Linked DNA regions of Homo sapiens: region 2 is linked to region 1. Evidence: fine-mapped QTL for protein levels in blood plasma. Region 1 holds a variant in brackets. A gene starts in the other region. All regions are shown on their reverse strands.

What was found. A credible set is the group of variants that fine-mapping cannot tell apart. PIP is the posterior inclusion probability: the model's chance that the variant is causal. Protein levels are from antibody-based Olink assays in UK Biobank. Linkage for the fine-mapping came from a reference panel and not from the study's own genotypes, which makes the PIPs less certain.
Region 2: CD109 starts here. The variant in region 1 is the best candidate, but not a certain one, in a credible set for the plasma level of the CD109 protein (UK Biobank, PIP 0.51).

The regions. Positions count from the first base shown.
Region 1 is chr19:7,764,882-7,767,787 of GRCh38, reverse strand. CLEC4M (C-type lectin domain family 4 member M) reads right to left here. Exons shown (of 7, transcript NM_014257.5): 3 at 2,520-2,603; 4 at 1,581-2,150; 5 at 981-1,132; 6 at 160-272. Among named protein-coding and RNA genes, the nearest start is that of CLEC4M, 3.1 kb to the right of the region's middle. The variant T/C (reference allele first, on the strand shown) is at 1,508.
Region 2 is chr6:73,694,456-73,697,361 of GRCh38, reverse strand. It overlaps CD109 (CD109 molecule), which reads right to left and starts at 1,159. Exons shown (of 33, transcript NM_133493.5): 1 at 1,073-1,159. The coding sequence starts at 1,146. It overlaps CD109-AS1 (CD109 antisense RNA 1), which reads left to right and starts at 1,231. Exons shown (of 2, transcript NR_110889.1): 1 at 1,231-1,530; 2 at 1,787-2,906. RefSeq lists a silencer at 990-1,039 and enhancers at 602-1,316, 1,270-1,529.

The DNA.
Region 1 (2,906 bases):
GAGGTGGGTATGAAGACCACCTTCCTCAACTCAGTAAAACCCCAGACTCTTAGTCCTATGGGGTCAGGGAGGTTGGGGGGGACCCCCAGGGAAAGCTCAAGTCAGAGTTGCAGGAACCCAGCCCGACTGGATACAGTGTCCCTTTCTCCCAGAATCTACCTGGGTGACAGAGGTGAGCCGTCCACCCATTGCCACGTGCCTTCCTGATTTAGGTCTGAAAGTCCCATCCAGGAGAAGCGGTTACTCCTGGAAGTCTGCAGCTGTAGGAAGTTCTGGAGGGTAGAGGAGGAGTCAGGAGGGAGCTCTGCTTCCCATTTTCCAGGTTCCACCTCCCCGTCTCTTGGCAGAAAGTTCTGCTTTCAAGTTAACCTGCAGTTTTCTGATATAGCAGGTCCTGAGCCTCCTCATGTCTGAGCCCCTCTCACATCTGTATCCCCATGGCATGTGTGTCCTGACATGCAGGCACGCATGCACAGCTGGCCTCTCCTCATGTGCTCCTGTGAATGCTGCATGTTTATCTATTTTGCATGTCCACATGAATTTACTCCTGACTGGGTTTCATGTACTGGAGCCACATTGGACCCACTACTAATTGCTGGTCCAGCACATCTCCTTTCAGCTCTGCACTGAGTGACAGCACATCACAGCTTGAAATCAGCCGCAGTGGAAATATTTACACTGGGGAAATTGGCAAACACAACACATCAGGAATTTTCTCTCCGGAGAGCTGGCCGTTAAACACCTGCAGCATGCTGTGGTGGTTTGCTTACATTTGACGTTTCCCCCAAATATTCACATGTGTTCAGATCTGGTTTGTATTTGCTTGAAGGGTACCTGGGACCCCTTCATTCATATCCTTCTCTTCCCATCTTTCCAAATAGAGCAAAGCCCCTCTTCTGCAAAATCCTCTCTGAGCACCTCCTCCCCAGTTGGCCAGAAGCCATGCCCCAGGCCAGGACGAGGACCCCCACCACGTGTACCTGCTCCTCAGCAGTTTTGATTACGACGAGCTGGGCCCTCACTTCCTGGCAGGCGGTGACGGAGTCGTGCCAGTTCCGCTGGGAGTTAGACATGAAGTAACAGTTTCCTTGGAAGAATGTCCAGTCCTTGGGACAGTGGCGGCACAGGCGTTCTGTTGGGGGAGGCTGGTCAGGGCTGGGCTCAGATTAGGTTGTCCATATTCCCATATCTGCCCAGCCTTCAAGCCCTTGAAAATCAGGGCCCTTCCTTGACTGTCCATGTTGGGTGGACCGCTTGGAATGGGGAGAGACCATTCCTCTCCCTACTTCCCAAGACTCTCCCTGATCCCCAGGAGAACCCAGGAGTCCTGGCTCCATCTCTTCCAGACTGGGAGAATTAGCAGCTTTAGAGCTCAGAACAGAAGGCAGCGGATTGGTTGAACTGAGTGTCTACTGTGTGCCTGGCCCACTGTGAACACCAAGTGCAATGATCGCAGTTACCCCGTGTTCTCATTTCACAGGGGAGGAAACTGAGGCTCAGGCAGGGT[T/C]GGTAACTCAAGTAAAGTCACATCACACAGAGACCATCTCAGGCCCAAGGACCCTTGATGTGCAGGAACTCACCAAATGCAGTCTTCAAATCGGTCAGTTCTTGATAGATTTGCTGCTGCTTGGACTGGTCTGGCAACTCACCCACTGCAGCCTTCAGCTGGGTCAGCTCCTGGTAGATCTCCTGCAGCTTGGATTTCTCTGGCAACTCACCCACTGCAGCCTTCAGCTCCGTCAGCTCCTGGTAGATCTCCTGCAGCTTGGATTTCTCTGGCAACTCACCCACTGCAGCCTTCAGCCGGGTCAGCTCCTGGTAGATCTCCTGCAGCTTGGATTTCTCTGGCAACTCACCCACTGCAGCCTTCAGCCGGGTCAGCTCCTGGTAGATCTCCTGCAGCTTGGATTTCTCTGGCAACTCACCCACTGCAGCCTTCAGCCGGGTCAGCTCCTGGTAGATCTCCTGCAGCTTGGATTTCTCTGGCAACTCACCCACTGCAGCCTTCAGCTGGGTCAGCTCCTGGTAGATCTCCTGCAGCTTGGATTTCTCTGAGAGCTCACCCACTGCAGCTTTAAGCTGGGTCAGGTTCTGGTAGATTGCGTCTTGCTCGGATTGTTCCTGACTTAGGGAGCTGGGGACCTTGGACACTGGGCCAAGAAGAAAAGGAACTGCAATTATTAAACACCTACTGTGTGCCAAGCCCTGAACTGAGCCCCATAGAGACATCATTTGTGAGAGCCAAGGTCTCAGTTAATCCCCTTTGAAGATGAGGAAAACTGACACCTGGAGAAGGCAGCACAGAAGGCCAAGGAGAGCCAGGTTCTTCCCCTCCTCCTCCTCCCTCTCCTGTCCTGCTCTAGAGTGGGGAGGGGCTGTGGGAGAGGCCCCTACAGACCCCCAGGGACAACATCTTGGCTCTCAGTCCCACCTCCCTCCCAGACCTGGCCACTCCAGGCTCTGTTCATAGCCAAAAGGCCAGGCCTGGGGACCCCAGACCCTCAGAACCTGCCCCTGACCTTGGACAAGGATGGCCACCAGGACCCCAGCCAAGAGCATGAAGGAGAGGAGTTGCAGCACCAGGGCGCCATGGCCAAGACACCCTGAGAGAGGATACATGCGTCAGCCTGCCAGTGTTCCCACCTGAGCCTGGCCCAGGGAGAGCCTGGCCTAATCCCTCAGCACCCCAGGACCCAGGAACCCCAGCCCCAGCCCCCTCCACTCCAACACCTGGGAATCCAGGCCCTAGCTCTAACCTCCCCAGGACCCAGGAACCCCATCCCCAGCCTCTCCCTCCCCAAGTCCCAGGAGTTTAGGTCCCAACCCCCACCTCCCCAGGTCCCAGGAACCCAGGTACCTGCGTCCACCTCCCCAGTGGAACAGGAATGAAAAGAAATTAAAGAATG
Region 2 (2,906 bases), not on the chromosome of region 1:
TCCTCACATCTCCTTTCTTTTGTGACCCTCAGATTTCCTAGTGCGATAGGCACTCCATACTGCGCCAATTGCAGTTGTTTCCGTTAACATTGCCCACTGCTCTATTTGGCAACTGAATTGAAATGCTACTGAAACAACAATAATTCCCATAAATCAATTTTAATGCAGTAATTCATGCATCACTACTAGAGGAAGGCCTGTGTTATTATTTCCATTTTATAAACCACGAACCGCACAGAAGGAACCATGATGTAAATGGCTTGCACCGGGGCATAATGGAGTTATTGGCAAAGCAAAAGTCTCTAAGCTTCTCCTTTACAGAGGACCTTATCCCAGCGTGATTATTTTCTTGTTGTTGTTGTTATTTTTTAACTAAGATTTTGCCTGTTTCTTATTCAAACCTTTATCCTTGAGTAGCTGCCCAACGAGGGTAAAAAATTATTTAACCAATACCATTGATTGAAATATACCATTTGAAAATAAACTACAACTGGTGAAAATTCCAGGTATAGCGAATCATAAAAGAAGTCACTAAAGCAGCACTTTCTCTGCTATAACTAGGGGTTAGGGCTCAACTACAGAAATCTTTAGGAATGAATGGGGCTTGCCATTATTGGGTGCTGTTGTTTTCTTCCTATAATGTCTGCCCCTGAACCCATACATCAGTCCCCTCCGCCACACTTTGGCAATGCTAAGGTTGAGACATCTTGGTTAGAAAAAATATATCATGTCTTTGAGAGAAGAATCGCAATCTGGGAGCAAAAAGTTGAGAAGCAAAAGGCAGAGGCAATGTGGACTAAAAATAAAATGACTCTCTTCAGAAAGTTGTTATGGCCGGGGAGACGCTTAAACAACTTCATGAGTGGAGAAAGTTAACTGTCCCATGGAGAGCCACGCTGAAGCTACATATGGTCAAACCTCCAGGCCAGTACCAGGCTGGGGACTGCAGCCGCGAGGGCATTTCCCACCCGCTGCTGCACAGCAGCCGCCACCTCCCCGAAGCCCTGGCCCAGAGCCGCAGAGCGGCCCAGGCCCGCGCGCCCGCGCGCCCCCCGCGCGCCCACGTTCCTACCCGGGAGCCACGGCCAGCGCGGCGGTGCACACGCAGAGGAGGTGGGCGGCGGTCAGGAGCGGTGGGCCCTGCATCTCGACGGCGTCTGCCTGGGCTACAGTCCGCTGCCGGGGAAGTTCGCGGGCACCGTGGGGTGTGGCTTGCCACCTCCTCCCTGATTTTTTTTCCCTCTTAATTCGAGTTTAGTAATCTGAAATGGGCGCGCCTAACAGCAGAGTGAGAGATCTAAATTGAGACAGGACTTGGAGGCTCCACCCCTCCCATCCCCATTACAATGGCGCTTCTCGCTGCTGTGGCAAACATCGCAAATCCAGGGGGTGAGAAAGCAGTTGCTAAACGCAGGCGGCCCCACCTGGCCCGGCGTCCCAGCTGGCCGCGGAGAACAGAGCGCGCCCACTTCCCCGGCCCACCGGGTTCCTCAGGCTGTTTACACTAGCGCTCTACCAACGATGCCCAGGGTGAGTAAACAGGCCCATCCTTGTGAGGAGAAATTCATAGCAACTATGTGAAGTGGAAAAAAGTCAATCATTGTCCTCCAGACTATGAGTCAGAATTTTAGAGAAACGGCACACACACACACGCACACACACACGCACGCACACGCGCGCAAAACCGGGGCGTATTTCCTGGGTAGTTATTTAATGTATATGAATGGAAACAGAAAAACTATTTTTCCTTAAAACAAAAAATGAGGTCTACTGCTTTCCTTTCCAGGAAAATGTTATGATTTATCACCTTAAAAAAAAAAAGAAGAAGAGAACTCGCACTGCAGACGTTAGGTGTTGCTACTTGGAACCCTGAAAAAAAATTACCTAAGAAGATGCCTTTATATTTTTGCTACAGAAAGAATTTGGTAGAACTGTAAAGCTTGGAGCAATCTCTGAACACAGTTAGGGTTGGGTTGGCTCTCCTGTCAGAATGAAGGCCAGTGGCCGGTGGTGCCCAGGAGTTATTGATGCCCAACGCTGTCTGGCTTCTTTGCAGCTCCTCTCTCCTGCTCTCTGGCACTGCCACCATCTTCAGATGACTCAGGTTTCACCATGACTACACCATAAAAGCAGGGAACTGCCAGAAACTGTTGGAAAACAGACACATTCAGTCCCTGACAACTTAAACTTTCTAATTCATGGAGCGGTTTTAGATGGTAGCATTCTAATATGGGGCAAAATGCAAACGGAAAAGAGGTCAGCAAAAAGATGTCTCATGACAAAGCTATGTGCTAAATAAGGAAAAGTGAGAAAGTAGCACCTAGACAAACTGTGGTTTGGGGAATCCAGAAACTTGCTTTCCTCCCTTTCCTGTTCCACCCTTTTTCTCCCTGCTGAACAGCTTGCAAAGGTCCTTATGTCCTTTCCTTCAGGCAGCCTATCTTTAGTGGCCAACTTCCTGTGCAGGCAGGACTTAGGAATGGTCAAAAGTGTCTGTGTGGATCCCTGGGTGCTGACCTGTTCCTGACACAGCTGTTACTACTGGTCTCCTCACCTCCGTTGTTCAGAGAGGAGGACCATGGTCAAGGGTGGGCCAAGCACCAAGGTCTAACTCAGTGCTTCTCACATGCCAATGTGTGTGAGAATCACATGAAAACAGACTCTGACTTGGCAGGTCTGGAACGAGGACTGGGATTCTGCTTTACTTTAGCAGACAGTAGGCCATGGAGACTCTACAAGTGGGGGCAATTTGGGGGCAATTTGATGAGCAAAGGCAATTAAGAACACAGAAAATTCTTCTCAATCTTTCACTTCATAAAGGTGGATTAATAAATTCAGGTTCATTCTAGAGGTAGGCAAACATAAGAGGGACTGCAAAAGATTAGATGATAATGTTGCCTCCCGAG